Homo sapiens: one gene and its partner. The protein of the gene in region 1 purifies or fractionates together with the protein of each later gene. This does not show direct contact. Each region holds a gene or a part of one and is shown in the gene's direction. Other genes may lie near its edges.

Region 1 (4,240 bases):
GCCCCTCTCTTCTCCAGGACCCAGGCATTCAAGCCCCGCCCGACTCTCAATGGTCCTTTGTCCCGGACTGGGAAAGGCACGGGCAGAGTCTGACATCATGAAGCCTGGGGTGGGGGTGGGACTCCCCCTCCCCCTCCAACTCCCCCCCAGCCCCACAACGCTTCTCTCCCTGGTCTGAGGGATTTCCCCGCCCCTCACCCCCTGGGTTCTCCCTTGAGAGCGAGGACCCCCCCTCCCCACTGCTCTGGCCTGAAGGAGGACAGGAGATGTCCCAGTGAGGCTGAACAGCTCATGGTGAAATCACTGCTGCACTTTGTCACGCCACCTCCAGCTGCCCCGAGCCCCCACCCACCTTGCAAAAGTCATGACCAAGGGGTGGAATCTGCACTCAGAGGGTCCTTGCCCAACTTGGTCAGCACAGTCCTATGTGCACCAAGCACTGCCCCGGGGACAGAAGGGTGCACATGACAGACAGAGAGGCAGATAGGTTTCTGGTGAGCCCCTGCCTCTGAGAGCTCCTGGGTTAGTGGGAGGCAGAGGCGGGCAGACCTAGGGTGCACACGGGCCAGCCTGCCAAGGCTACAGAAGGAAAGGACAGCATTGCAATGGAGGGGCCTGGCTGATGGGCGAAGATGGGAAAGCTTCCCAGGGAAGCGGCACCCAGGCTGCTGAGCCTACAGGATGGGTGAACGGCAGCCAGTGCCAGAGTGGGGAGTGCTATGGGGTGGGGACTGCTTTCCAGGAAGAATGAGCAGCAGGTGCACAGGCCTTGAGTCTGAAGGTGCCCTGGGGCTCTGGGGAACACATTCAACCACCCACACTGTTTATTAAGCTCAACTGCCTGCCAGGAGCTTGTCTACGAGCAAGGATGGATTGAGAATATCCAAGACGAAGCTTCTGGCCTGGTGGAGGTCACGTTCTCATGAAAGGAGTTGGTGAACACGGAAGGTCATTTCAGATGGCAAGAGGAGGTGACACTGACGTTGAGGGTGGAAAGGACCTGTCTCCTCCTGCTGCCCACCTAATGTTGCCACCAAGATTCCCTGAGGACAATGCCTCTGTCCCTCAGCCTGGGACTTCCAAAGAGATTAGACTGCCCCCCCACCCCCGGGACCCAGAATCAGGGTGTACAGGGATGGAAGATGGGGAGAGAGCAAGGCAGCCACTCCCGACCCCTCCAGGAAAGAGCTAGGAGAACCCAGGCGTCAGGCTGCCCAGTCCGAGCCCCGTGGTGACAAGGGCCCCTTTGTGCCCCCCTCCCCCGGGGGTAGGGAGGAGCTGGGCCCTGGAGGCAGGCGGCCCCTGGCACCCAGGGGGAGGGGAGGGGCTGGCAAGTGGGGGCCTAGACCCTGGAAGGCAGGGGACTGCGAGCTGGGCTGGCGGAGCAGAGGTGCAGAAGCAACTGAGTCCAAGTGAGTATGGTGGCAGGGAGGCCAGGGCAAGGGGAGCAGGGCACCGGGGCAGTGGCACCCAGACGTGAGCAGGGTCAGGTGCTCTGGGTGAGGGAGCATCGCTGTGCACCGCTACTGATTTAGGATGCAGGAGTGTGTGGCTTGGGGCTGCTTTGGGGATGGGCTCGGACCATCGCTGGGGCAGCGATGGGGCTCTGGGAAGAAACCACAGAGAGAAAAAACAAAGGGCCCCCCCTCAGCACCCCTTGTGGGTGAAGATTTTGCAGGAGAGGTTTCCTTGGGGTTCCCGAGTGCGGGGCAGATGGGGTGGAGGAGGTCTGCATCTGGCCGAAGAATGGAAGGATGTCCAGGTGATCAGACACCTGCAGGCTGCAATCTGGGAGGTGGATGGGGGCAGTGGGCTGTTAGTGACTGCATTCTAGCACCTGGGCACATAGCAGGTGTGTGTGTGTGTGTGTGTGCGTGTGCGTGCACACACATGGCTGCCCATGCACCTTCCTCTGTAAGCCTCAGTCGACTTTTCTTCATTAATCCCCACTAAGGACACTTTTTATTTTTCGTTACTTTTTTTTTTTTAAGAGACGGGACTCTCACTATATTGCCCAGGCTGGTCTCAAACTTCTGGGCACAAGAGATTCTCCCAACTTGGCCTTCCAAAGTGCTGGGTTTACAGGCGTGAGCCACTGCGCCCGGCCCCAACTACAGAAACTTTTTAGATGCATTTGTCCTCATCCCATCCTTCCCTTGGCATTTTAATCCAACAGATCTGCTGTACATATGTTTATGGACTGTGGCCACACACACTGTAATAGCTGAGGTTGATTTGGCCCCCATCCCGAGAACTTGTTTTCCCCGCTGTTAAGAGTGCATGGTCTACCTGCTTGTTTCATGTCTGCCCGGGCACGTGCTCATCCTCATCTGCATCTCTCTCCTGTACCTTCCTGTCACAGGTGCAAGGGCAGCGTCGGCCAGGTGTCCATCGGCGCGTGTCTGAGTGGACGCGTCTATAGCCATCCTCAGTGTGTGTGTGCAGTTCCTTGCATCTTTGTTAGCCTGGCATGCATGCTGGGCTGTGTGTGTGTGTGTGTGTGTGTGCTGAATGCCAGGGCTGTGTCTGTCCAGGTGTGTGTGGACAGCAGCAGAGGCATTGCATGCACGCCTTGGGAACTATGTGAGTGCCAGCCCATCCCTGTGGGCACAGGGGTCCCTGTGCCTGTCTGTGTGTTCAGGGTCCTGTCTGGGTGTCTGTATGAGTCTCCGCTGCGTGTGCCTGCCCCTTCTGGCTGGGGCTACATCTGTCACATTTCATCCCCGCGATTGGATGTGTCTGTGCATGTGTCTCTGTCCGTGGGAAGAGGGCGGTGAAGGCTGGGAAAAGCAATTGCTTGGAAACCCTGGCTGCAACCCCAAGGCAACCCATGGAGCAGCAGGGTGCCAGGGGCTCGCTAGCCCCCACCCTGGGCCTTCCTGGCCCTGCTCAAAGGCCAGCCAGGAGTGCCTGACCCCTTTCTTACTCCCCACTTACCCTGAAAGCCCCCCGCAGGCTAAAACACCCTCTCCCCGAGGGAACAGGACTCTTTTGTACCGGGGACCAGCTTCTGGTGAGGGTGCGGACACCAGGGGCCGTCTGTGGGGTGGGAGAGGGCGGCAGGAATTCACGCGGCATGTCGGGAATGCTGATACTGTGAAACCCAGTCATTGATGGCTCTGGGTCCCTGCCCGCCACCCCCAGGCCCCGGCCGTGGGACATCTGCTCCCTCACTCCACTCGCCACACCCCTCAGTCTCACCCCCGTACCCCGATGCGGTCGTTCCCCCTTCCCTCCCCACAGTTCTCTGACACCCCAGCTTGGAGGGAGTTGTTGCCAGAGAGTGGCTTCGAGGCTGTGTGGGAGGGTCCCAGGCACAATGGGAGGGCCACATGGGCAGCCTGACAACAGGTCACAACCCATGCAGGAGATACTGAAGCGGGGGTGGGTTGGGTGCCTCAATCCCGCCCCCTTGCACCTGAGTGACTCTTGTTGCATGCAGGTTGTCTGGCGGCTTCAGGTGGACCCAGAAGACGTCCCCAACTCAGGGAGATTCAGGTGAGGGGCAGGGTACCAACTCTCTTCCCTTGCTTCAGCTTTGCAATGCTGGCCCTGCCTTGGCTCTCTGGTTCTTACTTTCTGGAGATCTCCAGGGGCATCACGGTGACAAAGATAATGATCAGCACATCATCACTGCATAGAGACAGGACATGCAGCAAAGACTGCAGACCAACTGTGTGGCCTTGGGCGAGTCACTTAACCTCTCTGGACCTCAGCTATAAAATGAGGATAATGCATCTTCCTCAAAGAGATCCAATGAGTTAAGACAGCAGAATAAGCAGTGAGGGCTGGCACATGGCCAATGCCATAGAAGGGTTTATAATTATAAGTAATAGCAGCAGGCTGGGTGAGGTGGCTCATGCCTGTAATCCCAACACTTTGGGAGGCTGAGGCAGGAGGATCGCTTGAGCCAAGGAGTTCAAGACCAGTCTGGGCAACACAGAACATGGCAAGACTCCCATCTCTAAAAAAAATAATAATAATAACCAAATAAATAAACTAAAATAAAATTAGCCAGGCATGGTGGTGTGTACCTGAGGTCCCAGTTACTCTGAAGGATCGCTTAAGCCTGGCAGATTGAAGCTGCAGTTGAGTGAGCCACGATTGCACCACTGCATTCCAGGCTGGGTGACAGGGCTGAGACCCCATCTCAAAAAGTAAAAAGTTAAAAAATATCAGCAGACCAGGCATGGTGATTTACACCTGTAATCCTTTGGGAAGCCAAGGCAGGAATATTGCT
Region 2 (3,751 bases), on another chromosome or scaffold:
GTGTATATAGTGCTGGGAAGAGGGTCAGCACCTCCTTCATGGGGGGCAGGTGAGGGAATGGCCAGCTGTGGCGGGAATGGCACTGCTGACCCTGGGTTGGGGCCCACAGGGCACAGCCAGCAGCGAGGTGAATGCCACTGAGGAGATGTCCACGCTTGTCAACTACATCGAACCTGTCAAGTTCAAGTCCTTTGAGGCTGCTCGAAGTGAGTGGGGGTGGGTGGCAGGCATGGGAGCTTGCCCAGCTCAGCCCTGCCAGGTCTGACGCCCTTTCTTGGCTCACCCCTAAGAGAGGAACAAATGCTTCGAGATGTCGTCCTTTGTGGAGACCAAGGCCATGGAGCAACTGACCAAGAGCCCCATGGAGTTTGTGGAGTATCCTTTGAAGGTGCTGTGGGCGGGCAGGCCAGGGTGGGGCGCTCGGAGGCCGGCTCCGGTGTTCTGTCCCCACATATGCCACCTGCACAGGGTGCTGGCCCTCCGGCGGCCCTCCTGCACCCTGGCCTGGGGCTTGGGCAGATCCAGGCAGTCTCAGGGGGCATGGCTAGGCTAAGAAACAGAGGCCGGGTGTGGGGGTCACAGGAGCACCTGGCTGAGGCCGGAGGTGGAGGCTGATGGGGTGGGCCCTGGCACCTGTGTGGCCCCTGACCACCAATCTCAGATACAACAAGCAGCAGCTCAGCCGCATCTACCCCAAGGGCACCCGCGTGGACTCCTCCAACTACATGCCCCAGCTCTTCTGGAACGTAGGGTGCCAGCTTGTTGCGCTCAACTTCCAGACCCTCGGTGAGCCCTGGCCCCCTCCATCTTGACCCCGACCCTCAGTCTTACTGACTTCTGACCCACGATCCTGCTGGTCTTGCCTGAATGGACCTCTGACCCTGTCTCATCCCAGATCCCAGGGGAACCCAGCTCCCGACTCACCCCGCCTCCTGCCCTTGGCTGATACCAGACCCCTCCCCTGTCTGATCTGTCCTGGATCCGGACCCTGATGCCATTTGAGCCCGCCCCTGACCCTGGACCTTGGATGCCATCTGACCTGATGATCTCCCATTCCCCACATGGCACCGTCCTGCCTGATCCCTGCCCCTGCTCGACGTGCCCGTGGCACCCCAGATGTGGCGATGCAGCTCAACGCGGGCGTTTTTGAGTACAACGGGCGCAGCGGGTACCTGCTCAAGCCGGAGTTCATGCGGCGGCCGGACAAGTCCTTCGACCCCTTCACTGAGGTCATCGTGGATGGCATCGTGGCCAATGCCTTGCGGGTCAAGGTGGGGCTTGCGGGCGGCTCAGGCCAGGGGTGTCCTGGGGGCAGGACTCTCAGCATCCGCCTCACCCTCCTTGGCCCACCCCCAGGTGATCTCAGGGCAGTTCCTGTCCGACAGGAAGGTGGGCATCTACGTGGAGGTGGACATGTTTGGCCTCCCTGTTGATACGCGGCGCAAGTACCGCACCCGGACCTCTCAGGGGAACTCGTTCAACCCCGTGTGGGACGAAGAGCCCTTCGACTTCCCCAAGGTGAGCCTGGCCCCTGCACCCGCCCAGGCACAGGCAGATCCAGCCCAGACCGCCCCGACTCTCAGGTGGGAGAACAGGAACCAGGCACACCGTTGGCGACTGGGGATCAGAAAGTGGGGGGTGCCATGGGTCCCCCAGGACCTGCCTGTCCGAGCGTCAGTCTCCCTGCCCTCCTTAGGGTAAGAGACCAGGGTGAGAAGGTGAGATGGGGGTTGGGGGGTGTCAGCTAGACGTCTTGTGTCCCCTGCGAGGAGTGGACACAGCCTACCCTGTCTCCGAGGCAGGAGCTGAGGTCACAACCCCAAGCTCATATCCGCTCTTCAGCACCCCGCACGGCCCTGCATGGACGCGGCCTCTGCTCCCAGCCTGGGCATGTGTGTTCTTGGTTTCCTGCTCATGACTCACTCCCGTTTCTAAACTGGCAATGACCAGAACTGTCTGTGGGGGCCCTGGAGGGGCCTGGCTGCCTGTCATCTTGCCTCAGGGTCCTGATGGCTGCAGTCATCCATTAGGCCAGGACATGGAAGTGGGGTCAGCCATCAGCTTAGTGGCAATGGTGACTGATGGTCAGTAGGTCAGCTCGTCTGAAGGTCTGCTTTGTTAAGCTTTGATGGCTGTGGTTAGCTGTGGCCTGGTAGCCACAGTGGCCCAGGGTCAGCCCTGTGGCTCAGCTCCAGTCTGGCCCACAGGTGGTGCTGCCCACGCTGGCTTCACTTCGCATTGCAGCCTTTGAGGAGGGGGGTAAATTCGTAGGGCACCGGATCCTGCCTGTCTCTGCCATCCGCTCCGGTGAGGCCTTGGTGGGCTCTGGGCAGCACAGCGGGCAGTGGGTAGGGCCCCCACCTGGCCCAGCAACCCAACGTTGCCTTCCTGACCACCCAGGATACCACTACGTCTGCCTGCGGAACGAGGCCAACCAACCGCTGTGCCTGCCGGCCCTGCTCATCTACACCGAAGCCTCGGACTACATTCCTGACGACCACCAGGGTGAGCTGGGGGTGGGCGGGGCCTGCCTGGCCAGGGAGTGTGAGGGACAAGGGCCACCCCCAGGGCCTGGGAGTGGCCGAGCTGGATGGCCCCGACTGAGTAGGGAACTGAGTAGGGAACAGATCTGAGGACAAGCTCTGGAATTCCTCATTGAGACCAGAGGTGGCGGGTGGGGGTGGCCTGGGGGCTCTGTCTCTGAGACCTTGGCCTTCTGCCTCCCCCCAGACTATGCGGAGGCCCTGATCAACCCCATTAAGCACGTCAGCCTGATGGACCAGAGGGCCCGGCAGCTGGCCGCCCTCATTGGGGAGAGTGAGGTGAGCCGGGGCAGGGCAGGGCTCAGGCTCACTGTGACCCAGGGGGCCGCTGGACATGACTGCTGTGGCCACATGAGGAGGGGGCTTCTGGTCTCTCTAGCGCAGTAGGCTTGGCAGCCCTGGGATTTTGAGGAGATGAAAACCACCCATTTGCATTCAGGAGGCCTTCAGGTCACACCTGGGCTGGAATTCCTCCAGCTCCATGTAGGCTTGGAGTGGGGGTACAGGGGTCTCAGCCACTTCATCAGGGCAGTGCGAAGCCACAGAAGCTGTTCAGACGTGGTGTCCTGGGAGTCATGAGGAGGGCAGTGGCTTCCGTGGGGAGGGGTCAGGCACGGAGGTTCACCTGCGCTTCCAGATCCAGTCCCCCCAGGGCCTGCGGCAGGCGGGCGGGGAGAGATGACTGCAATTAGGGCTGCCTGGAGCTGTTAGCGGAGAGGCTGGTGCCCACTCTGCGGTTGAGTCCTCTGTTGATTTAATCAGGAGCTCAGCAGCAAGGAAAATGAGCGACTGTAGGCAAGGCTGGGGGACACAGGCAGGGGAGGAGAGGAGGCTTGGGGCTGGGCCAGGCCTTTCCAGAACAATCTGGGAGTTACTGAGCACATGCAGTGGGCTGGCATTATGTTATCTTCCCCACAGCCCATGTGGAAAAGGGGTTTAGAAAGGCTTGATTTATAGCTCTTCTCATGCAGACAGCCTCCTGTTACAGAGCAGTCCAGCAGTGGCTTGGACTAAGGGAGGCTGACAGGGGTGCTAGGGGACCCAGGAGGTGGTAGAGGACAGAAGGGTCTGGAGGGAACAGCATTTCTGAAAAGAGCATTCTCCTTTCTCCCTATAGGCTCAGGCTGGCCAAGAGACGTGCCAGGACACCCAGTCTCAGCAGCTGGGGTCTCAGCCGTCCTCAAACCCCACCCCCAGCCCACTGGATG

Evidence for each region.
Region 2: the proteins of MAG (region 1) and PLCB3 purify together in Homo sapiens (affinity purification with mass spectrometry; one large-scale study listed by BioGRID and IntAct). This does not show direct contact.

What each region holds. Positions count from the first base shown.
Region 1 is NC_000019.10:35,290,793-35,295,032, forward strand, and holds the start of MAG (myelin-associated glycoprotein isoform a precursor), read left to right. Parts: upstream 1-1,368; 5' UTR 1,369-1,412; intron 1,413-3,442; 5' UTR 3,443-3,498; intron 3,499-4,240. UniProt on the Homo sapiens protein: Adhesion molecule that mediates interactions between myelinating cells and neurons by binding to neuronal sialic acid-containing gangliosides and to the glycoproteins RTN4R and RTN4RL2.
Region 2 is NC_000011.10:64,261,291-64,265,041, forward strand, and holds part of PLCB3 (1-phosphatidylinositol 4,5-bisphosphate phosphodiesterase beta-3), read left to right. Parts: intron 1-109; coding exon 110-206; intron 207-290; coding exon 291-375; intron 376-661; coding exon 662-786; intron 787-895; coding exon of another isoform or gene 896-969; exon of another isoform or gene 970-1,076; intron 1,077-1,116; coding exon 1,117-1,271; intron 1,272-1,356; coding exon 1,357-1,518; intron 1,519-2,207; coding exon 2,208-2,307; intron 2,308-2,400; coding exon 2,401-2,505; intron 2,506-2,730; coding exon 2,731-2,822; intron 2,823-3,660; coding exon 3,661-3,751. UniProt on the Homo sapiens protein: Catalyzes the production of the second messenger molecules diacylglycerol (DAG) and inositol 1,4,5-trisphosphate (IP3).